Linked DNA regions of Homo sapiens. The protein of the gene in region 5 purifies or fractionates together with the protein of the main gene of each other region. This does not show direct contact. Each region holds a gene or a part of one and is shown on either strand. Other genes may lie near its edges. The genes, in order: MIPEP, PAM, MGAT1, PDIA5, ADPGK, GALNT7 and TMEM214.

Region 1 (3,500 bases), on a different chromosome or scaffold from region 5:
TATTTTTAACTTTACATGAAAAGAATGGTGTCAGCTTGTACCACACACATGCCCAGAAGCTGAACAGCATAACCTACCAGGAACAGTGTAACCATCCTTCCTTCCTTCTTTCCTTCCCTTCTTTCTTTCTTTCCCTTATTTTGGAGACAGGGTCTCACTCTGTCACCCAGCACCCAGGCTGGAATGCAGTGGCACAATCACAGCTCACTGCAGCCTCAATCTTCTGGGCTCAAGTGATCCTTCCACCTCAGCCTCCCAAGCAGTTGGGACTACAGGCATACACCACCACGCCCAGCTAATTTTTAAATTTAAAAACACTGTAAGGGAGAGCTCAGGACACAGGCTTCAGAGCCACCCAACTGGGATGCAAGACTGGCCTTGTTACTGCTGTGGGACCTTGGACACGTTATTTAGACTTTAGGCTGCCGTGAGGATTAAATGAGATCATGTGTGCAGCACACATTTCCTATGTGAATGAACCATGGCCACTGTTGAGCAGTTGTGCCATCCAGAGAGCAAAGGGCCCAATGCTGGGCAGTGGTCCCAACCCACCCCATAGTACCACTAGCAGGAACCCAGTCCTCTTCCCTAAATGCAAATGCCATGGCCCCCTCAAAACTAAATAGTGAGCTGGGTCTAGATACAATCTGCACCCTGCTGGGTAGGTCTTCAAGGAGGGATAAGGTTGTAAGAACCACTCACCAGTCGCTACTCAGAGACTCAAGGATACTCCTGTTCCTCAGTTGGTTCACAAAAAAACACTTAAGATTTATATGAATCGAAGGGTTTCTGCTACCATTCTCATGGGCCTTCCCAAATACTAGTGAAACGTAGATAGTCATTACCCATCAAAAAAACACTCACCAAGAAGGGCCAGACTCCCACACACGGATCCCAGAAGTCAGGGAGAGAGTGAGTGTGGAGGCCTACCTCCTCCCAACCTGCTCACCCACGGAGCCACTCCATGGCAAAGGAACAGTAGCTCAGAGGCTGCCCGCACTGCCCCCACTGCAGAGGTTTAAGGAAATCTCCCAGTAGTATGTTTTATGTTGGAAGACCCTGAGATAAAGCCCATACTTCAGTCTGTATTTGTCCTCCGACAAAATGAAGAGTGCTTGTCCATGAGACCAGCCCACGTCTAATTCGGCAGGACACAGCATGCAGAGAGCCTCGAGCAGGCAGCCCACTGCTGACTCCTTCCCAGGGGCCTTTCCCCGAGAGGCAAAGCTTTCTCCCAGGGAGTCCCCACTTTCAGCCCTGTCAGCATGCCCAGTATCTGCACTCTGCAGGGCCCCGTTCTGTCCCATTACGCAAGTTGGTTTTCAGCGGCTATGGGAAAAGTCACACACGATTGTGCCAAAGTGAACAAATGTTGGCGACCTGGGGAAAAGCAGCAGCTGCACATCTTGAAGTGTTGGGTCTTCCAAGGAAGCCTCGTCTAACCAGAGAAGCCATCACTCTCCTCCTCCAACAATTTCTGGCATATGAAATTGTCTTATCGTGTTACCCCCTTTTCCCTGTTGTAAATCCACGCTGGCGAGCCCAGGGCTCTCCCTAGCTCTATACACTGCCTGGCATGGTGCCATGCAGCTAAGTGTGTTGGAATACAGCGCTGTCCACCATTCAGTTATTTTAACAAGCATTATGGAGCTCTTATAAGTGGCTTAAAAATACTCACATTTACCCCAAAATCACTTTAAAATAATTCACTCTATCACAGCCTCAGCCAGAGCATGCTCCAGCCCTCCCACAGACTTTTACAGCCTCCCTAGACTCCCCTAATTCCAACTCAACAGGGACCACAAGGACACTGTTTATAGAGCATTTTGGCTTCTCGCCCCGTGGCCCACAGCCATTGATGCAACAGCAATTTAATCAAGCGATAATCTAGTAAGTCCAACTTGCCACTAGGACACTAAAAAGCCCTTATTTAAGGTAAGTGATAATGGTGATGACAAGAATCCTGGGTGTCTGTCATCTCAGATTATCAAGTGACACCTTTACATTGATCTCATTTAACACTCACAAGGACCCTGAGGCAGGGTTAACTTTTCGACCCCATTTACAGACAAGGAAATGACTGAGAGAACAGACAACCAGCCCTAAGGCCCAGTGCCTGCCTGCGAGGTGAGCCAATGGCCTGTCCTGAGCCCTCCCTCCGGCCACCCCTGGTCACACACACCTCCCACCCTGCTGGGTGAGGGACAAGCGCTATGGACAAAACTGCCTACGGCACAAGTCCATGAAACCGGATCACCCAGGACTTGGCATGGAGGTGGGGAGGGGAACAGCACATACTTCTCTACCATGGTGCCAATACTTCTACAAGCTTCTTCCGCAGCTTCTCTGAATGCTGGCTCAGGGTGAGCGATTTTCACAAAATCAGCCTAATAAAGGGGAAAGACAAAACCAAAAGGGAATTTGATGAGAAGCTTTCTTCCAGGATCTGAGGGTGAAAATGAAAACTGGGTTTTAAGATGTGCCATTGGCTTGCCCTATGCATTTCCATTACTGACTTTTTCCTAAGCGAGTAAAGCAAAGCAGCTTCTTTCTGAACATTTAATTCTGTTATTCCTTGAAACCAAGTTTGTTTCACTCCAAAAAAAGACTTTTATTATTTCAGAAAAGTTTTTCTCTTTCAAATATAAACACCAAGCAAATTCTTTCTTTCTTTTTTTTTTTTTTTTGAGACGGAGTCTTGCTCCGTCGCCCAGGCTGGAGTGCATTGGCGCAATCTCAGGTCACTGCAAGCTCCGCCTCTCGGGTTCACGCCATTCTCCTGTCTCAGCCTCCCACGTAGCTGTGACTACAGGTGCCCACCACCACGCCCTCTAATTCTTTATTTCAAAAGAGCAGACACTGGTTTCAAATATTCTACAACTTTCTGGCTAAAATTCTTTGCAGTATGGTTTTCACATGTTAACTTATCTCCAGAAAACAACTCTTAAAGGCTTTTTTTTTTAACTGACACATAGTATAGTTTCAAAACCCATTTAACTACATTCTAGTCTTTGATTTAACTACATGGTAGTCTTTGTGCAGAAAACAAAGGCACGGTCTCTTCATAGTCCTTTCAATAAAATATGAGTTCGTAGTCTCCATGTAATACTGTATACAGCTACTACTGCTGCTGCTACTTAAGTCATTAGACATTAAAATGAGTGACAGTTCTTTTTTAAAAAGATAAAATGATGTAAAACTAAATTTTTGTTTTCATGTCAACTGTAACAAAAAGCAGAGAAACTACAAAACACTACATATTTTATTTGCCAAGAAAATGTGACTATAACATGAAATAAAATCACCACAAGATAAAATTTCTTAATTTTATTATCAAATAGTTTTTAATGCCAAAACATTTAAATCCATAGTTTGGTATATTTGTTGTAACAATTGGTAACGATAAAATAACATTAGTACCAAAGTACCTGAAAAATGAGTTATGTAAATTTACAACATTTTTTTTTTACAAATTACTAATCTACGGGTTGTGAATTTAT
Region 2 (3,500 bases), on a different chromosome or scaffold from region 5:
CTGTCCTTCCTTCACCAGTGAATACACATCTTGCAGCCAGTAGGTCACCAAAACTTACATCAACTGGATGCCCCACAGGGTAGAAAGCCTACCAAAAAGACAAACACAATGAATCATTAATATTACCAATAAAATCCAGAACTACATGTTTGACTGTGTTGAGGTATGTTCCTCCTTTACCCCTTTTTTGAGGGTTTAATCATGAAGGGATGTTGAATTTTATCAAATGCTTTTTCAGCATCCATTCAACTGATCAGAGGATTTTTGACCTTAATTCTATTGATATATCACAGAACCCCATGCTTTAATAATGTGAAGCTTGGTACACTCTGGGTAGAGAGGATGAAGACAGACAGTGAAATAGACACACACACACACACACACACACCCACCCACATACACAAATAATCACTGGATAAAAACAGTTCACCTTTAATCATCGGATAAAAACAGTTCACCTTTAATTAATAACTTCTACTTTATGACAAGAGCACCAAACTTTGAAATAAACAAAAAAATACTATTAGCAAATGCATCCCATAAAAATCAGAATAAATGTGATAATAGAAGAGCTGTCTGAAATACTGTCTTTGAATAAATGATGGGATGTGAAAGGCCACCAACATGGTTTGACCATATTGAGAAAACTGACAAAGAAAGCAACAAATTGGAAGTTGCAAAAAGGAGGTTATACAGCTCAGTTATACAGTTAAGGCAGATTTAGAGATTTTTAGAGAAATTCACAAGAGTTGCATAATAATTTTTAAAAATTACTTTCTGCTGGTTAATATTTTTTTCTCTCAAAATTAAACTAGATTTTACCCACCTGTGGCAGCTGAGGGCTCTGCCGTCCAATCAGTGTCCACTGTCCATTTCTTACTCTGTATCCACTTACTACCTTACCTGTAATAAACACAAATTTTAATCATTTAATATAATAAGGTATTAGAAAAACAAAAGGCATATTTACTTTCCTACTTTAAAGTAGAAATCTGAGTATTTTCAGAGCTGCAAAGACTGAGTATCTTAAAAAAACAATATGATAAAACAGCATAAAATATTTCAAGGTCTTATATGAAATCACTTTCATTGAAACAGACTTAAGGTCAAACACAATTTGCATTTTAATTTATGGCACCAGGAAGCACAATGGTAAATATTTATAATTTAACATGTAAAGTTCTTACCTAAATGGTGAGTGTGAACTCTATAGGCAAAGACATGCATTGGATAATTTTTATAATGGCATGAAATGTCAGAATTCACCACTGTGGGAAATGAAAACACAGACAAAAGTCACTATTCAACTGGAAAATGACATTATTCTTATCTAAAATTATGCATAGGGTATTCACAAGATGCTAGGGACTGAGGTTTTCTTATGACTTAAATACACAGATATTAAGCACTTATTCTGTGCCAGCCACTTTACTCACATGAATTAAGAACCCCTTGCCTTATATTTTTATTTTATTCATAAACAGAATGACTAGAACCAAATCAAAATACTCTGTTAGTGAAAACATAGGCTTAATTTGTTACCTTTAGCTTGAAATTTATCCAGTTGAGAAAGCTTAAAAATTGGTTTTTATTTTTGGAATGAAAGAATTTTTGAAAAATTGAATGCAGACACCTAACATCACTACATTGACAGTTCCTGTTGAGAAGAGGCCATTTCATACTGTTCCTTCCTTATAGTCTAACACAGTAGCTATTCAATAAATATTCATTTTATAATAGATGAAAAAATGGTAACAAAGAGACCATACTGGTCATTAACTTTAAGAGATTCCCAGCGAAAACAAATGAACAATATTTCATATGGCACTTTCATCAGAGGATCGTAAAATATATTGATAAATAATAATATACTTATTCTCATCGCTTCTAGTAAGCTTGGGAGAATCAGCTATTATCATCCCCATTTTGCAAGTAGAGAAGTAAGCCAACTATATCCAAGTTTAAAGACTAAGTTGGTGCTGGATTTGCTAGTCGTTTAATTTTTAAATCTTTCTATGTAGAAGTTTATGTCACTGCTCATTATGCAGTGTGTCCTCTGCATCTCAAGAATGGATGATTTATTTTTAAATACTCAAGATTTATTCTTTAATTTATATAATACACACCTACACAAGGGCCTCAATTCCTAGCATCTCAATAAAGAATGGAAAAGTAATAAACCACTGGCTTGGAATAATACAAAAATCTATTTTAAATCCAAGGACAATAAAGTATTGGTTCATTTTTCCAAGACATAAAAATATTGATTATTTTTAAAGTTTATAAAAAATACAGTATAAATCCATTTCTACAGATTAGGTAATGAGGTAATGGTAAATATTAAAAAATCATTACTCACCTTTTTCTCCTGCTGGGATAACAGTGTCAACAGACATCATAAGGTACATGCCAGCAATTAAAGGCTGTCTGCAGAAAAAAATAACATTTTTCTAAAATACCTGAAAAAGTCAAAATGACTGTTTTGGAAAAACAGCATATACCTCAATACTTTGGTTTATAAAATGTGATGCTTTTGAAAATTGAAGTAGAAAAAGAGGAAAAATTTTTCTTCCTTAAAAAATACTTTTTCATGTGAAGGCAGACTCTAAATGGTTCCTGTGATAGCTAACTTTACGTGTTGACTTGGCCAGGTGCCTGGTTGTTTGGTCAAACACCAGTCTAGGTGTTGCTGGGTAGGTGATTTTTAAATGTGATTAACCTTTAAATTAAACTTTGAGTAAAGCAGATTATTTTCCATAGTGCGGGTGGGCTTCATCCAGTCCATTGAAAGTCTGAAGAGAAAAGACTAAGGTCCCCTCAAAAGGAAAGGATTCTGCCTGTGAATTGCCTTTGGACTCAAGAATGCAACATCAACCCTTCCTTGAATTTCCAATTGGCTCAATGGATTTAGGACTTAATCAGTCCCCACAATAGTGTCAGCCAATCCCTTACAACAACTCTTTCTCTTTCTCTCTATTCTATTGGTTCAGGTTTCTTTGGAGAACCCTGACTAATCAGCTCTCATGATTCCTAGCTGTGACATTCATGCCCTGGTCTAATCCCCTGCCCTTTAATGTGGGCTAAAAGAAGTGTAGTAACATCTTTTTAAACATTTTTAACATTTTTTTTATTTCCATAGATTTTTGGGGAACAGGTGGTATTTGGTTACCTAAGTTCTTTAGTGGTGATTTCTGAGATTTTGGTGCACCCATCACCCAAACAGTATACACTGAACTCAATTAGTAGCCTTTTATCCCTCACCTCCTTCCCATCCTTTACCCTGGGAAGTCCTCAAAGTCCACTGTATCATTCTTATGCCTTTGCATTCTCACAGCTTAGTTCCCACTTATGAGTGAGAACATACAATGTTTGGTTTTCCATTCCTGAGTTACTCGGTAACTTATCTTTAACAAATAGAATATGGCAAAAGTGATGGTATGCCATTTTGAACATTAGGTTACTGAAAGACTCTGGCTTCCATCTTGCATGCATGCCCTCTC
Region 3 (3,500 bases), on a different chromosome or scaffold from region 5:
AATCACTTCCCGGGTGAGGCTGGCGGGGTCGCCATCGAGAGCGCTGACTGAGGGTGGCCTGCCAGGTGCTGGGCGCGTCCAGAAGAAGAGGAGCAGCAGGGCATTCCAGGCCACAAAGAGGATAGCGCCCCACAGCACAAGCCCTGCAGACTGCTTCTTCAGCATCCTGGCCCCCACCGGGGAGGGCAGGCCAGGGGACGGTTCAAGGCTGCCCTGGGCTTGCCCGGCTCCCTTGCCCGCAGTCCTAGGGATGCCTCCTCTGGACTATGGGATTAGGAGGCAGCCATGCACCTAAAGACAGGAGAGAGAAAGCAAACCGTCACACAAAGGCTCGTGGCTCCATGCCCCACAGGTAGAGGAAATGGGGGCAGGAAAAGGCCAAGAGTGAGGGTGGAGGAAGGCCAGGAGGTTGACTCCAGAGCTCTCTAGGGAGTCAACATATATCCTGACCCAGGAACGTATTTTTGAGGGAGAGGCAGAGAGTGATGCTGGTGGAGGGAGAGAGAAAAAGAACCCCAACTCCCCTCTTTCTACCTGTCAGATTTCATTTCCCCTCCAGGTGGGAAGGAGGAGGGGAGGGGCAAGGAGTGACAGCATCTGCCTACCATTCCTCTAACCTAAGCGCCCCAAGATGACTGATTTTTAAAATCAAATGTCCCACCTCAGGGCTACAGTTAACCCCTTACCAACAGGGAAGCACCAGAGGCACCCCACGAATGTCAGGAGCAAAACGAAGTTGCCCATCATCTCCAGGGTTATTTAACATTTTGCTGGAGGAAGCAGCCAATGCAAATGAACCAAGAAAAAAAAATTCAAAGCAGAAGTGGAAAGGAAGCAAACTATTTCTATTATCTTTACTTGTGAGAATATGCCTGGAAAACTCAAAAAGAATCAATAATGAACTGAGCAAGGAAGTGTAATATAAAAATCAACATATACTAATGGATAGCCTTCATATCCACAAATAACTCATGAGAAGAAAACATGGATGAGAAAACCCTACTTACAAAAGCCAGAGAAATGAGAAAATATTTAGAAATAAACTTAAATAAACTTAAACATTCAAAACTTATGTGAACAAAACTATCATTCCTGAAAGACACAAAAGAACATCTGAATATCCCTTGTTCTTGGTCAGGACATTTCAGCATCATCAAAAATCCCAATAAAAATACCTTTTTATGGAGCTAGACGAACTGACAGTAAAGTTCACATGAAAAACTAGGAAAACAATAAAAATAAGCTGTGAGGAGGGACTCAGCCCTACCAGATATGAAAATACTGCATACTGGCCAGATGCAGTAGCTCCTACCTGCAATCCCAGCACTTTGGGAGGCCAATACAGGAGGATCACTTGAGCCCAGGAGTTCAAGAATAGCCTGGGCAGCACACGGAGACCCTGTCTCTACAAGTAACAATTAAAAAAAAAAAAAAAAAAAGCTGGGCATGGTGGCACGCACCTGTGGTCCCAGCTACTCAGGAGGCTGAGATGGGATCACCTGAGTCTGGGAGGCTGAGGCTGTAGTGAGCTGTGATTGGATTGTGCCATTGCACTCCAGCCTGGGCAAGAGAGTGAGACTCTGTCTCAAAAAAATTTTTTTTTATTATATATATATATATATGGCATACTACAAAACCTCCATAATTACAACTGCGTGGTACTGGTACATAAATAAACAGACCATCCAGTGAAATAGAATTTAAGCTCCAGAAACAGACTCATTACACAAAAAAATCTAATATGTAATAAAGGTGCTACTTAAAATTCCCAAGGCAAAGATGGTCTTATTAATAGTGTTATAATAATTACGTAGCTATGCTATAGCTTGAATATGGTTTGTTCTCTGAAACACATGTTGGGATTTGATCCCCTGTGTGGTGGTGCTGCCGGAGGTGGGGTCTAGTGGTAGGTGTTTGGATCACAAGGGGGGCAGGGGCAGATCCTTCCTAACGTCCTCTGGTGAGTGAGCTAGTTCCCCAGGGATAACAGGCTGTTATAACCAAGCCCAGTCTCTCCTGCATGCCCCATTTCTTTCTACTTTCAGCCATGTCCCTACAAAAACCTACACAGGAGTGTTGATGGTAACTTTATTCATAATCACTCAAAACTGGAAATAACCCAAAGGCCCATCAACAGGGAAATACAGATAAACAAATTGTGGTTTACTCATAGAATGGAATAATATTCAGCAATAAAACTGAATAAACCACTGACATACACAACACAATCTCCAAATAATTACACAATATGGGTCTTTTTGGGAAAAACAAAAAAGAGCACATACACTGTGATTCCATTGACATAAAACTGCCGAAAATAGAAACTAATCTATATTACAGAAAGCAGATCAGTTGTTGCCTGGGGATGGAGGCAGAGAAGGGCAGTAGGGTAGTTACTACACAGGGGCATTAGGAAGCTTCTAGAAGGGTGGATATGTTTATTATCTTGATTGTGGTGATACTTTTACAGGTATATATATATATATATATATACACACACACACATATATGTCAAAACTTATCAAATTGTACACTTTATATGCAGTTCTTTGCACATATTGATATCAATTGTATGTCAATGAAACCTCAAAAAACTTTTTTTAAAAAGACGTTATTGGGTAAAATGACAAAGGTGGAATATGGACAGTAGGTTAAAGTATCAGTGATAACTGATTAATTCCAATTCTTAGGTAATACACACTGAAGTATTGAGAAGTAGAGGACCAGGATAGATGCAACTTCTCAAATGGTTCAGAACAAAAACATACTCTGCACACATAGAGAGCAAATGGAGCAAAATATTAACAGGTGAATCTGAGTAAAGAGAGTGTGTACGAATATCCTTATACTATTTTTTATTCTTGCAATTTGTGTAAGTTTGAAGCTATTTCCACACGAAGTTTCTTGACAATCAAATATGTAGATATTGCCCATAGCTCTGAAGAGCTTCATCCATCAGCGTAATCCCAGCTGGCACATCAGCAAGGCAAATTGAGATGATCTGTTTGCCCTGAATTCCTCGGTCAGTCACCTGACGACGTGTATCACACACCTGCTCTCTGCCAGGCTCTGGGAAGGAACCAGGACACAAACCAGTGAGAAAAAGGCATGGTCCCACCAATCCTCCAAGCTCTACCAGACCACATTACTTGAAAGGATCTGAAACACTCCCCAATTCCCAGCCAGCTGCCACTCCAGACCATAACTCCTTGACTGTCCTGCCTCTGGTCTACCCTTTACACCCCAAAGCTTCAGGCGTGCACCCTCTTACACCAACAGCTCTGCCAGTTGCCCTCTGCCTCACAGGCTACTCTCTAATCCTGGCCAAAACCTTGGGCCTCAGATCTAACCTCTGAGGCTCTGGGCTCTCAAACCAGCAGATCTGGTATAAAAGGGCTGATCCTGAAGGGCCTCTAAAGAGACATGGATTCTGTCTCCCTCCTGGGGAGACTTCACCAGCCCCTGCCAGCATTCACCACCAACCACTTGTCTTCTTCCTA
Region 4 (3,500 bases), on a different chromosome or scaffold from region 5:
TTCTGGCTGTCAGTGACCCGCTGGGCATTCCTGAACAAGGGACACAGCTCCTCTCTGGGCCTGGATCCCTCACGAGTAAAGGGAGAGGGGACAGGCCAACAGTCCCCACACACCAGCCTGTGGCCAGCACAAGAGCCAGCTCTTAAAAACCACAAATTTCCAGCACCATCCCCCAGAGACTCTGATCTGATAGTTGTAGGATGGGACCCAGTAGTCACAGTGCCATGCCTGGAGCACAGAGTGGGCACCAGTAAGTTCAGCCCCCCAGGCCAGATGGCTGGCTTCCCTGATGTCATGAATATAACCTCCAGGAAACCCAGGCAGGCCACCTGCCTCAGACAGAGAGGTTATGAAGTGCATTCCTGAATGCAAGTGAGGGTGATCCCTGGCTTGGAATAAAGGAAGCTGAAAGGAGAGACAGAGGGAATAAGAGACAGGAGGACTGAACCCAGGAAAAGGCCACAACACCACTGGCCCAAGACAATCAAGCAAAGGTGTGTCAGTGTCTAAGCGGAGGGGAGCATCAAGGAAATGGGCCCCCATGTAGCAGTGCAGGGGGAATGGGAAGAGAAGACGTGGGCTCTCAGCTGCCCGCTGGAGGCCTGGCAAGTCTGGCCTCACCTGCACTGATGTGGGTCAGGCCACAGGACAGCCTCAGCGGCGGTCTAGTGGGCAGAAAGGGGCCACGTCAATGGGGCTGCCCCTTCAGGGTTTCCCCAGCCCCCTCGGTGCCTCAGCTGGACCACGCTCCCTGACACCATGCTCCCCAGCATGGCTGGGAGGGCAAGCCCAGGATCTGTCTGCCAGTCATGCCTCAGGACCCTCACAGATCTCCTGGGGCCTATGGAGACCTGAGTGTCCAGTGGGACAGGGAGATGGCACACCTCAGCCTTTCTCCTGCTGCCCAGAGCACCCAGCATTCTGGGTGGCACGTGATGGACGTCAATACAGAGTGGCAGCTATTCCGGTCCTGTGGACTGGCAGCCCAGGCCATGCTGGATATCGTGGGACCACCAAGCAGGAGCAACTACCCTGTGCTGTGCACAAGTGGGTGGGAACAATGAGGGACATGGACACGGGAAGGAAGCCCCTGCTGCCATACCCCACTCAGTGCAGGGAAAGGGGCAGGCAGAGGAGAAAACGCTTCTGGTCCTTGTACTCCCTTCTGGTGGGGGTGAGGGGTGCCTCAAAGCCGCAGCCAGGGCTTTCGGGTAACAATGGGACCTCCTGACTCCAGAGAGAGTCCTGGGCTCTGGGTCTAAGTGAGAATCAGGTTCCCAGTTCATCCCCACTCTGCCTGCATGGGCCTGTCCCCAGCCTGGCTTCCTTTGGCTTTATGTCCCTGTAAAGTTCTCATTACCCCATCTCTGCCACTGTCTCTGGGCCTGTTAAGGTGATCCTAGCACCTGTATCTCTGCTCCCACAAGGTCTGGATGGTACCTTTAGGCCTGACCTCCTGTTGGCCTTGATCAAAACTTCAAACCCTGCCCACCCGGCCCTGGGATGGTCATCTGTCTCTGCTTGTGAGGGCTGCTCCACTAATACCTGCTCCCCTTTCCTGCCTCGGCTGAACTTCCGTCTAGGCCTGCTTGGCCTGTTTATCATCTAGGACTCTATGCTCAGCTTATGCCTGGCCTTGGTTCCTTCCAGCCTGCCCTGGCCCCACCTGGGATTCCACCCAGGAAAGTAAGGCACCCCTGCACGTGACTCTGGGTTTGGGTGTGTGTGAATGCAGATCCCACGTGACTGCCAGCTTCTAGGGCCTGTTAGGCCAGAGGTTCCCATGACTGAGTCTCAGGGCTGGGAGGAATGTTTGCAGTCCTCTGCACCAGTGCTCCGCCTGGCATGGATGAGAAGGGAACTCAAAGGCTGGCAGTCAATCACACTTCCCCGAATTCAGGGGTATTTCCCTGCCCCACAAGCCCTCTCCCAGCAGAAGCCCCCACTGCACCAGCTGCCTGGGGGATGTGCCTGGGGGACGCGCCTGGAGGCCCTGCACTCTAATCCAATCTGCAGCTCTAGCTTGTTAATTTTATGCTTCATCAGTCGGCAGCTGCAGGAGCCTTTCACTTAGGCAGGGCGAGGCTCCACTGACATGGCCTTGCTCTCCTCCACCATGGCATCCTCCAGTTGACTTTTGTTGGATTTTTAAATTTGTATTTTTAATTATATAAGTAATGCATGATGACAATCCTACAGTAAAAAGGTTCAAACACTAAAAAAGTAAATAGATGACCCCTTTAACCATCCCTCTCCTCCAAGTAAGTGCTGGAATGGTTCAGCATATCCCTTTTAGTTGATTTTGCAGCATAAATCCAGCCTGCCCTATCTTCCTTCTAAAGAGAATGTCCTGGTTCCCAAGGAATTTCCTGCTTACAGGTCTTAGCAGACCTGCCCCTGTTTGGGGAAGGACCTGAATGACAAGAAGGAAGGTGTAGGAATTAGCTGCAGGCAGATCAAGAGATGAAGAGCGCTGTCCTTACCTTTCGGTCATCTTTGAAGGCATCAGCAGTAGCAGTAAAGTGCGGAATGACCTTCTTACAGTGTGGGCACCCTGTGTGAGAGGGGAAGAGAGCACACAGGACTGTGATGCATGTGCAGGGAGGCTGCAGGGCCAGGGACCCTTCCTGAAAGCTCCAGAGAGGGCTCTCCAGGAGCTCCCCACTGCCCGCCACACTGTCAGGGTCCTTTTGTCAACCTTGCCACTCTAACCACCTCCCACCCATGTCTGATCTATTGGTAGGGGGGACTGGTAGGAGTCCCTGTCACAAGCATCATATGCTCCTGCCCAGGCTGGGGGGCGATGGTCACTGTAGTCTAGTTCTGCTCCTTCCACAGAGGACGAGGAACAGCCTGATCTTGGGGGCAGAGGGAGCTTTGGGCTTAAAGAGGAAGGCACGGGATTCTCAGAGCCGCTACAATCTTCTCTTGCTCCAGGGACAATAGCAAATCTCTCCATTTCCTGACTGAGAGGAAGTGGCGTTGGGAAATGCAGGGTGGGGGGATTTTGGGGCAACTACTCTGCACCCACTGCTCATGATTTGCTGCTAACTTCTGCATTCCTAGCAACCTCCACCCAGCCCAGACTGTGAGCAGCCAAATCAGGCCCTGGTCCCCAGGTCTCCATCTACTCTTTGCTCTACAATAACCAGAACCTCAAAGCCAGGAACAGGAAGGCCATGGTCAGGGTAAGAGGGAGAGGAGCTACGGGAAGTCACCAGGCAGTCCTCAGGTCCCTTGATGCTCCCTGTCCCAGGGAGAAGGCTTGTCAGAGCAGCCTAAGGCCTTTGAGCTATACTGGGGCCCCTACCTCCAGCATCTGTCTCTTGTTCTGGGCATCACCCTGAGCCCCAACTCTGACCTCAGTGTCTCAGAAGCAGGGTAGGGACCTCTGTGGGGGCCACTTTCTCCTCCTGTCCTGGTGAGCCCAGGAGCTGCAGGCTGATCCAGCCCTTCCCTCAGCACTAACAGATCAGAACCCAAACCCCCCTCCTCTCTCA
Region 5 (3,500 bases):
GTCTCTTCCTCTGGAGCTCCTTGCTTTGTCCCTCCATCATGTGCAATCCAGAGAGGACCACCAGGTCTGGCTGAAACTCCTCCAGGCTAGACACAAACACCTCCAGCATATTCATGGCCCCGTTGGAGAGGTCGTGAGAGAAGATGAATCGGTTGGCATGGGGAGCTTTTAACTGGCCCCACTCCTCCCCTGGAAAAACCCAGTCAACACAATGGGAAGAAAAGGAAGAGGCTTTAGGTCTCCTAGCTGTGGGGGCACTTTCAGGCACCTCACAGGAGCCTTGGCTCCAAGCAGGCTGGTTTCTGGCTGAGGAGACCCCAGCAACAATGGCCTAAGGTCAGCATGGCACTGCAAGAAACAAACCAAAAACCTAAACCCAAACCCAGCCAAGAAACAGAAACATAGTATGGGTGCTATATGCCTTTTTCAAGGTAATTAGCTCCCCCTGAGTCCCAGGAGAGCCCTACTTGAGCTCTCAAACACAGGAGAGACAGTACAGAATGGCAGCATGACTTCCAAATACCAGCATACAGTGTGCAGCACGCACGCCCTGCAGACAGTATAGGCTGTCATTGTTTAAAGCACATTCTTCCTCACAGCATTGCCCTGAGCATCTTTCATTCAGTTGGAACTTAAGCAGGCTGAATTTCTTCCCAACAGCCAAGCTCACTGCATCTCCTCTTCCCTGCTGCCCATCAGTGGTTTCTGGGCACCTGATCCAAAGGATCAGACTATCTAGCTGCTCCAGTTGCTTCTATGTGAGTTGCTTTAGAGGAATGACTGTTTAAAGACCCAAGTTCAAGTGCTAGTTCCTCCCTAAACATGAAGCCTTTCCTAATCCTACCACCCCTAAGCAGACTTGATTACCTCCTTTCTGGGGCCACCACTGTACCCTAATACAGGACTGAGGCACATGATTTTGCAATTCCTTTTTCTTTTTTCCTTTTTTTTTTTTTTTTTTCTTCTGAGATGGAGTTTCACTCTGTTGCCCAGGTTGGAGCGCAATGGCGCGACCTCAGCTCACTGCAACCTCTGCCTCCCAGGTTCAAGCGATTCTCCTGCCTCAGCCTCCCGAGTAGCTGGGATTACAGGTACCCGCCACCACGCCTGGCTAATTTTTGTATTTTCAGTAGAGACGGAGTTTCACCATGTTGGCCAGGCTGGTCTTAAACTCCTGACCTCAGGTGATCTGCCTGCCTTAGCCTCCCAAAGTGCTGGGATTACAGGCGTGAGCCACCATGCCCGGCCTGCAATTACTTTTTCCAAGTGTCTATCTCTGGCAGTAAACTGTGAGCTGAGGGCAGGGCCTGTGTCATCCTCTGTCGTATTCCTTCTGCATCATGCTGTGTCTGGCATATAGCCATGGGAATGAATTAACAAAAGAACAAGCAAATAAGAGAACAGACTGATGACCTAAATGCCCATGACAACAAAAAATATGGGTATGAACCCCAAATCCAACATTTTGCAAATCAACAAAGACTCTGTACGATGGGAAAAATACATTACATTGACATTCTCCAGAGAGCAAGACGTGGACTCAACCCTTGAATAGTGACACTGCTAGGAAACACGACCTAACTGAACCTAGGAGAAAGGAGCCACACTGTATTGAAAATACACTGATTTCTTCAGGAAGTGACAGAGGCAAAAATAAACAGGCTCTTCTGCAAGGCAAGGATGAGAAGAACCGTGCAGAGCTGCTTGCTGTTTCCACAGGAAACAAGGCAGCAGATGCCAAGAGAGGCTGGAACCTGAAGAAAACCACCAGCTGAGATCTGTGAAATTCTGTAACAGTGCCATTACCTCCAAGAGTCTCTTCCTCTGGAGCTCCTTGCTTTGTCCCTCCATCATGTGCAATCCAGAAAGGACCACCAGGTCTGGCTGAAACTCCTCCAGGCTAGACACAAACACCTCCAGCATATTCATGGCCCCGTTGGAGAGGCCATGCAGGGGGCAGATGCAAATGGATCTAATTCTGCCTGTAATGGTAGTTAGCGCCCCTCTTTCCTCACAAAGTGTTGTATTCATTCCTGTAAGCAATCTCTTCTCAATGTATCATCCTGCCCTCAGCCAGTAAGTCAGCAAAACCTCTGCGTAGTGACTCACTGGATTCCCAGCCCAAGCCTGACAATGGGCTTCTCTGGGGAGATCTGGTAAGAGAGAATGTGGAAAAAAAAATGGACAAATCCCTTGGAATTTCCCTATTGAGGTCAGAGACAAGCTGGGAATGGATTTCTGTTGAGAGAGCTGAGCCCAGGGCTACTGCCACTAGACTAGGCTCCCTCCTTGGACCTAGGAAAATGTCACCTCACAAAGTTTAATGGAAGTCCACTGCTTTGTATGCAGAAGAGGCATAGGAAAGAAAAACTGAAGTGTGAAGCTTATAAACCCAAGGATGGAGACACTCTCTTTGTGCGGTGAACTGTGCTGTCTCCTTAACTACATACGAGGCACAGCTGTCCAATACAACATCAAAGTCTTGCTGAAGACGTAAGACTCTCCACTCTGTAGTCACCAGGAAAAATGACAAACCAGGAATCACAAAGGTCCCCAGTTCCTGCTGTGGGTGCCAAAAAAACTGACACGAATCTGGAACTCATGGCAGCAATACCTCAGGGGCTCATCTTTAGCAATTCCAGACCCTTCCAGTCCACAGTCAGGTCATTCTTTTATTTATTTATTATTATTATTTTTTGAGACGGAGTCTCGCTCTGTTGCCCAGACTGGAGTGCAGTGGTGCAATCTCAGTTCACTGCAACCTCCGCCTCCCAGGCTCAAGCAATTCTCTGCCTCAGCCTACTGAGTAGCTGGGATTATAGGCGCCCGCCTCCACACCTGGCTAATTTTTGTATTTTTAGTAGAGACGGGGTTTCACCATCTTGGCCAGGCTGGTCTTGAACTCCTGACCTTGTGATCCACCCGCTTCAGCCTCACAAAGTTCTGGGATTACAGGCATGAGCCACCACGTGCGGCCAGGTCATCTTTTCATCCAAGCTGCTCACAATGTTTCCGCACACCAACCAATCTCTTAATCCTTACCACAATGATCAGGCAGTAAAAACTATTACTCTTACTTCCCATTTGGGAAAACTAAAGCTGAGAAACTCAAAAACTTGTGTAGCATTAAGTATGAATTGCCTACGTCAACGCTGTGTCCCTAATTTTCAGACCCTATCCTTCTTTAATTCCCAACTGATTCTAGTAAGCACCCGAAAGAGAACCAGAACATGTTACAACTCTTTTTTCTACCTGGAGAAAGGCATAATTCTCAAGAAATAACATAGTTCATATCTTATGTTAAAGTTAATTACTCTAGTAGAGAAGATTCTCTTAATTGACTTGGAAGTAGTTCACTGAAGAGTATTAAGTGCTGCTTTAAGGTACCAATTAGTCTGTTTAGATGCTTGAGTCTTTAATGTGTATTAACAATGTGTTGAATCAGAAACTCAAGAGTCTGAGTTCTGAGCAGAGGGAAAATTACAGCAGGAAATACACAG
Region 6 (3,500 bases), on a different chromosome or scaffold from region 5:
TTCGCAGACTAGTTGGTATTGATATAATACTATAGTTAATCGTACCTTCTAGATTTGGGAAACCAGGCTGCTCTGCACCAATTCTATAAACCTAATTAGATAATGTAAAGTTAAATTTTTCCTCAAGTTTCAGTGTACCAGTTCTTGTATTCAGTGAAGTGAATCAGGTCTCCCTGTCGGCATGTTTAAATGCTTCTTGGGAGTGATGCCTGAAAATGCTTCCAAGGCTGGGAAGCCCAGAAGGGAATTTATAATGGTGCAGAAATGAGAACATTTCTCATTTGGAAATATTCAGGATTCTTAGCAAATTAAGCAACTGAAAGTTAGCTCTTCCCTTTCCAAAAAGACATAGGCCCTAGGTGACTGCAGTTCATGTTGTCTCAGTGTTGCTTTCAGGATCACAGGGCTGAACTATAATTTAATGATAAACCTCATTTTTAAAAACTAAGAGTATTGAAATGCTGAGCATACATTTTCTCTACGCTGAGAATAGCATAGTTTTGCTATTGTTTTTTTAATATCCTTCAGTCAAATTAATGTACTAAAAACTAAAAATTGCCTCATGTTCTCAGAATAAAATTTATTTTCCAACTTTAAATATTAAATTGGTTTTCTAGTCACAGCTTTTCAAATCACCAGATTTCAGACATGAGTAAAAAAAGACTAATATGTGTTGCAATATCTATCTTATATAGTATTATATATGATCACAACTAAAATATATATACATAGGTGTCTGTGCGCACGCGCGTGCGCGCACACACACACACACACACACACACACACACACACACACACACACAGACTTGCGGATAGGGAGAGGTGGAAAGGCACATAAAGTTATGGTAGCCCAGATATAACCAAAAATGGGTTAAGTTCCTCTTTGATAGTTACAGTTCTCTAATAAAACTTTTTCTCTATTTGTATTTTTCCCATAGTGAAGATGACTCTTCACGACCTGAACTTCTTTATCATCTGAACCAGTTTTTCTGGGCCACAATATTTACTGAGATGCTAATGATGATGCTGCTGTAGTCCCTCTCTAGACCAAAGTACTACTGGTTAGGTTAGCAGGCAGGTAATGCTTCCACAGCCACTCGTTTCAGCTTTCATTCTAATCAGTTCTCAAACATTTTAACATCTGAATTTGTTGATGGCCCTGTCCTTAAAGAAATTATTTTTGCTCACGGTTAGGCAATATCGTCTAAGTCATTTTACTTCTGTCTATGCCTTCTTTCATCTCTCCCCACCAACCTCCTAGAGCCTAAAAGAAGGCATTTTCCATGTTTCTTCTTAATACACACATTTTTCTCCTCCATCCACACAGGCTCCTTTAACTTACCAACCCACTCCCTGTGCTTCAGACACCACCCTCTGGCCAATGAAATGCATCCACTTCTGATTCCATTCTGAGCTCCATCGACCTGGTTAAGACACCTTCACTTGACTGACCTGTGTTCTATAAAATACTATATGCCAAACCAAACCAAATTTTTCATTTTCATTTTGCAGCCCCCAAATCTATATAACCTCTAGACTGGCACTCCTCAAAGCATGATCCCTGGACCAGCAGCATCAGCATCCCCGGGGAACTAGTTAGAAATGCAAATTATCTGCTCTACCCTAAATCTACTCAATCAGAAATTCGGGGGATGGGGCCAAGTAATCCGTTTTCTCACACCCTCTAGGTGACTCCGAAGCCTAAAGAAGTTTGAGAGCCAGTGCTTTGGACAGCTGTATTCCTTCTAAAGGCATCAACATCCTTTCCTTTACCATCAAGAATGATTCCTCCTCCCACTGGGCAATTCTATTATACTTCCATAATCTCTTCCTCTGTATTCAGTTTCTAGGTCCTTCTCCTTAGTTTAAGCTTCATTATATCCTTCGGACATAATTCTCTCCTCACTAAAATCTAGCTTGCACTGTTTCCAGATTATTCCTTATAGCCCAGCTCTGACCATTCAAAGTCTTTCATGGCTCAGATTCTATTTATCTTTCTAGAGTCCTCTCTTCCATTCCACCCCTCTCCAACCCAATTTTCAGCCATGTAGTCCCCAGGATTGGTCACAGTTATTTATGCTGTTGCACAGTCTCCTCTGTCCTCATCTCTCCAGCATCTCTTTTTATAAGACAAGCTCTCTGACAGCATCCAGTCCCATACACTAGATGCTCCTTTCTCTGTGCTCCCACAGGACTCAGTGGACTTAACTAATACAGTTTTTGTCTTACCCAGCACAATTGTTTACTTGTGCATCTGGCCCACAAACTGTGGCCAAAAAGGGTTATTACTCATTTTATTTATCTAGGAAAATACACTTTAAGCAAGACATCCATATAATTTACCATCCAACCCAGGACACTTCTGAGAGTGAAAGGATAATAATGGCTAATGGGCAGCAAATGTAAACTAAAACAAATAATCACCCTAATAACAGACCACAAGAGCCACACACCCCCATCATCTGAGTCCTGACTACATCTTCAAGCTCATCCCGTACTGTACTACCTCCAAACTCAACAAACTCCGGCCATACTGGCTTCAAATACTCCAGCCTCATTCCAACCTCAGGAATTTTGCACTTCTGTTCCCTCTGCCTGGAATGCTTTTCCGCCAGATTTGCATGATAGTCTTACACTTACTCCTGAAGACTCTGCTCTGGCCATCACCTTCCCTGACATTCCCTGAGTGGTCCCTTCCAACCCATTCTCTTTCTTTTTGTTTTTAATTTTTTTTTTTTGAGATGGAGTCTCGTTTTGTTGCCCAGGCTTGAGTGTAGTGGCGCGAGCTCCACTTACTGCAACCTCCGCCTCCTGGCTTCAAGCAATTATCCTGCCTCAGCCTCCTGAGTAGCTGGGATTACAGGGGTGTGCTACCATGCCTGGCTAATTTTTGTATTTTTAGTAGAGACAGGGTTTCACCATGTTGGCCAGGCTGGTCTCAAACTCCGGACCTCAAGTGATTCGCCTGCCTAGGCCTCCCAAAGCGCTGGGATTACAAGCATGAACCACCGCACCAGCCTCCCATTCTCTTTCATATTACCATGTACAGATGTTCCTCGACTTACAAGGGGTTACACCCTGCAACAAACCCACTGTAAACTTGAAGAATCATAAGACATCTTAAGTCCAGATGTGCTCAGACTTATGACAGGGTTACACACCGATAAACCCATTGAAAAGTCAAAAATCGTAAGCTGAATCATGGTAAGTCAGGGACCATCTATATTGTCTTCAGTGTTTATCTGAAATTACCCAGCTAGCGTCTACATATCCACCTTTTAATGTAGCCCATGTGTACTTGTCTGTGTTGTTAAAAACTGTAGTGCAAGATCAGAGAGCACAGCTCTGAAGTTAGAACACCTGAGATTGAATCCTGGCTCTACAATTAATTAAGTGAATAAACTTGGACAAAGAGTTCACCTCTCTATACCACAACAGTCTCATCTATAAAGTTGGGATTCCATCGGACTTGCAATAGAGGGTGGTTGTTACAAATAAAC
Region 7 (3,115 bases), on a different chromosome or scaffold from region 5:
CTCTAGTACTGCTGACTTGAAACATTTAAGGAAACAAAATTGAGAACTAAGAAACCAGCAGAGTTATCTAACTCCTTATAGTCTCAAGTCAAAAATAAAAAGGGGCTTCGGTGATAAACCTTGGACTCATGTGTCCCTTGGAGTTCTAAATCTTTCACTCACTGCTCTATAAAATGAAGGTCCTGGCAAGGAAAGGACACCTCCTGGTCACTGGCCAAGAATTCCCCTAGGAGACGGCCCCCTGCTTTTCTAAGCGTAAAACTATCAAGGCAAATCTGGGACGTGAATCACAGTGACAAGTCAGACACTATAATTAGGGTAGCAAGAGAAGTGTCTAGAACACCCACCAGGTCAAACTTTAGAACCATGTGTGTGGGCTTCCCCCACCAGGAGCTTAATTACAGCCACGGCTACAGTCTTCAGGAGGGCAAGGGCCCAGGATTTTGTTATTCTGAACCATAACTAGGGGAATTTCTATATGAGGATGCAGACAAGAATGCTAGAAATCAAATCTGTGTCCTTTATTCCACCTGGTAGGGCATACCCAAGAACCATATACTGAGTCCTGTCTCAGGTTGATGGAGGGTTCCCTGGGCCCAAGGCACACAACTGCCTGTGCTCTGCTCTACAGATGATAGGAGGGATGGACAGTGGAGAGAAGCTGAGCCTTGTGACCAAGACCCCCAGCATGATGGGGAATGGAAAGTTGGAAGAAGTAGGACTACAAGGGAGGGGACAGGGAGGGGCTTAGAGGCATTTGGGGCAGGCTGGGCATTTTGAAGTGAGAGGCATTTCCATCCAGCTCCCCATGTCCACTGACAGCCACACCCAGGCTTCAGGTGGAGGTGAGGCTGCTGTTTCCCAATGCGGTGCTATATTCTTCTGGAAGCCCCTTTCCTTCTGCTGTGGCTAGAGCTGTGACCAAGAATGGGAACAGGAGGCTGCTAAAGTCTGGAGAAGCAGGAATCATTTGTCAGAAGAACACAGAAGCCACCTGCTGGGAGTTCTATCTTTTTAGAGATGAGCTGTTTGGGGTTTAGAAATGAGATGGAAGGAAGTGGAAGGCAGAGGGCAAGGGCGGAGTTGTGAGAGGCTACCAGCACAAGGATGGAGGCTGGGGGCCATGTGCAGTAGGGCCAGAAAAGTGTTCAGTGGAATTGTGGGTAGGAGGCTGAGATGCTGCTGGGCCCTGTCCCCACCAAAGATGGAAGAACTGAGGTGGAGGCAACTGGCCACTTGCCTAGGAGAGAACTCAGGCACCAAGTTAAAAAGACTCCCATGAAGAACTGCCACCTTCTACCCGCTGCAGTCTTGGATGGTCTACCCATGCAGAAATCAGTGGCCAGGAAGGCAGGGCCTACTGCTGGGATATCAGGGCAAGTGCCCAGTCCAAGAAAGCCACTGTAATGTCCTGTAGGCAAAGCCAGGTCCAGTGGACAGCCTCACTGAGCTGTGTCTTCATGCAGTCCCAGGTCACCTCACCTCTGGAAGGAAAGTGGAACATTTTTGAGTATGCACGTGAGTAGCTGTGTCAACTTTCGGGGATGAAAGCTTAGACCCACAACCCTCATCCCAGGGTGGCCAGGAATGGGAGCGAGGGGCAGGACAGTGTGGGAGACTGGATAGAGATGGCTTGTCCCTGGGGCCCGGGAATGGGGCTGCTGGGGATCCTGCCGGAGCCCTGGGCAAAGGTCTCACCTGCATGCCTCATGGCAGTGCTCCTGGGCCCAGGCCAGGGCCTCAAGCAAGAGGTGCCACAGTGGCAGCAGCACATTCTGGTGGAAAAGCAGGGGCAGCTCTCTCAGATAGCGGAGTAGCTGATTCACGGAATCGGGGAGCTGGATCTGTAGCTGGACCATGGAGAATGGATGGGGTCAGAGTATCCAGGGAACTGCATCCTGGCCCTAAAGACTCAGGCCACACAGTGCTGCTCCTTTCCCAGAATTCTGCTCCTGGGAAAACCAGCCCCTTATTTGACTCCCTGTCTCTGACTTACCCTCTGAGAGAGACTGGTGAGACTGTCACCAAACCACGCAAGGTGAGAGGCACAGTGGGCAGAAAGGAAGCTGACTGTGGCATTGGTGTGAGCCCAGGCCAGCTGCAAGCTGGGCCGCACCACGGTGAGCAGGTGGGAGCCCCAGAGCGGCAGTGTCTCCCCCAGCCAGCTGTGGAAGATGGAAGTGGGGGAAGAGGGCTCTGAGTCTCCTCAGGCCCACTTAGCTCCCAAGAAACAGCTGGGGAAAGGGAGGCCGTGGGAAAGGAGAATCACAAGCGCTTCCCACTGACTGTCGCCTCCTCCCTGACACCCAGGCCTTCTCTCTTCTGCCTCTCCTCTCCCCTCCCTGGGAGGAGCTCACCTGTAGCCTTGCAGACTGTAGGAGTAGAGCTTGGCACACGCTTGTTGGCTAGCAGGTAAGAAGCCAGATGATCGAAGCAACCGGCCAGTAAGGGAGGCTAAGTAAAGGGGGCCTCTGGTGAGCTGGGAGGTGAGAGGGGCAGGGACTGGGGAGACAGACACTACAGGGCCCAGAGCAGGCACAGCGAGGCGCTGGGCAGAGCTTTGTGTTCTCACAGGGCCACAAAGCCAGCTCCAGGCTGCTGTGGAGGGAGGCATGCAGAGCTGCCCTTCTCCTGCTGGGCCAGGTGTGCAGGAATGCAGCTGCCGGTTGGAGCCTAGGCTCAGGCTTCAGGAAGCCTCAGGTTGAGGGTCTGCCCTTCTACTTACTAGCTATGACCTAAAGCTAATTGCTACATCTTTCTGAGACCATTTCCTCAGGAGTTAAAAGGAGGTAACACCTACTAAAATGATACTATGAATATGCAAGCACTTCTATACTGCGAAGTCCTAGTCCAATCTGAAATGGTAGTGTCATATCTGTGGACAAAAAAATCTGTCTGTAAAGTGTTTACTCTGCAGGATTGAGAACTCGTCAGGACAAAGATGTGTGCTGCTGGGGGCGGGGTGGTGGTGCTACGTGTAGCTCTGTGCCCCGCCCACACCATCCTCCTCGCTTGCCCATTGCTGCTTACCCTGGAAGGAGCTGTGTGACCGGAGGTCATGGCACAGGAAGCCTACAGCGAAGACCAGCAGCAACAGGAGGAGCCGCGTCCAGGG

What was found.
Region 1: the proteins of ADPGK (region 5) and MIPEP purify together in Homo sapiens (affinity purification with mass spectrometry; 2 studies listed by BioGRID and IntAct, with this or other methods). This does not show direct contact.
Region 2: the proteins of ADPGK (region 5) and PAM purify together in Homo sapiens (affinity purification with mass spectrometry; one large-scale study listed by BioGRID and IntAct). This does not show direct contact.
Region 3: the proteins of ADPGK (region 5) and MGAT1 purify together in Homo sapiens (affinity purification with mass spectrometry; 2 studies listed by BioGRID and IntAct, with this or other methods). This does not show direct contact.
Region 4: the proteins of ADPGK (region 5) and PDIA5 purify together in Homo sapiens (affinity purification with mass spectrometry; 2 studies listed by BioGRID and IntAct, with this or other methods). This does not show direct contact.
Region 6: the proteins of ADPGK (region 5) and GALNT7 purify together in Homo sapiens (affinity purification with mass spectrometry; 2 studies listed by BioGRID and IntAct, with this or other methods). This does not show direct contact.
Region 7: the proteins of ADPGK (region 5) and TMEM214 purify together in Homo sapiens (affinity purification with mass spectrometry; 2 studies listed by BioGRID and IntAct, with this or other methods). This does not show direct contact.

Annotation. Positions count from the first base shown.
Region 1 is NC_000013.11:23,879,401-23,882,900, forward strand, and holds part of MIPEP (mitochondrial intermediate peptidase), read right to left. Parts: intron 2,388-3,500; coding exon 2,299-2,387; intron 1-2,298. UniProt on the Homo sapiens protein: Cleaves proteins, imported into the mitochondrion, to their mature size.
Region 2 is NC_000005.10:102,947,305-102,950,804, reverse strand, and holds part of PAM (peptidyl-glycine alpha-amidating monooxygenase isoform e preproprotein), read right to left. Parts: intron 2,428-3,500; coding exon 2,360-2,427; intron 1,269-2,359; coding exon 1,188-1,268; intron 904-1,187; coding exon 827-903; intron 89-826; coding exon 1-88. UniProt on the Homo sapiens protein: Bifunctional enzyme that catalyzes amidation of the C-terminus of proteins. Alpha-amidation is present at the C-terminus of many endocrine hormones and neuropeptides and is required for their activity.
Region 3 is NC_000005.10:180,792,807-180,796,306, forward strand, and holds part of MGAT1 (alpha-1,3-mannosyl-glycoprotein 2-beta-N-acetylglucosaminyltransferase), read right to left. Parts: intron 3,070-3,500; exon of another isoform or gene 2,075-3,069; intron 1,561-2,074; exon of another isoform or gene 1,461-1,560; intron 292-1,460; 5' UTR 166-291; coding exon 1-165. UniProt on the Homo sapiens protein: Initiates complex N-linked carbohydrate formation. Essential for the conversion of high-mannose to hybrid and complex N-glycans.
Region 4 is NC_000003.12:123,154,025-123,157,524, reverse strand, and holds part of PDIA5 (protein disulfide-isomerase A5 precursor), read right to left. Parts: intron 2,555-3,500; coding exon 2,484-2,554; intron 1-2,483.
Region 5 is NC_000015.10:72,756,259-72,759,758, forward strand, and holds part of ADPGK (ADP-dependent glucokinase isoform 4 precursor), read right to left. Parts: intron 2,032-3,500; coding exon of another isoform or gene 1,807-2,031; intron 190-1,806; coding exon 1-189. UniProt on the Homo sapiens protein: Catalyzes the phosphorylation of D-glucose to D-glucose 6-phosphate using ADP as the phosphate donor. GDP and CDP can replace ADP, but with reduced efficiency.
Region 6 is NC_000004.12:173,175,311-173,178,810, reverse strand, and holds part of GALNT7 (N-acetylgalactosaminyltransferase 7), read right to left. Parts: intron 1-3,500. UniProt on the Homo sapiens protein: Glycopeptide transferase involved in O-linked oligosaccharide biosynthesis, which catalyzes the transfer of an N-acetyl-D-galactosamine residue to an already glycosylated peptide.
Region 7 is NC_000002.12:27,039,080-27,042,194, reverse strand, and holds the end of TMEM214 (transmembrane protein 214), read right to left. Parts: coding exon 3,031-3,115; intron 2,455-3,030; coding exon 2,358-2,454; intron 2,166-2,357; coding exon 1,997-2,165; intron 1,851-1,996; coding exon 1,699-1,850; intron 1,485-1,698; coding exon 1,358-1,484; 3' UTR 501-1,357; downstream 1-500. UniProt on the Homo sapiens protein: Critical mediator, in cooperation with CASP4, of endoplasmic reticulum-stress induced apoptosis. Required or the activation of CASP4 following endoplasmic reticulum stress.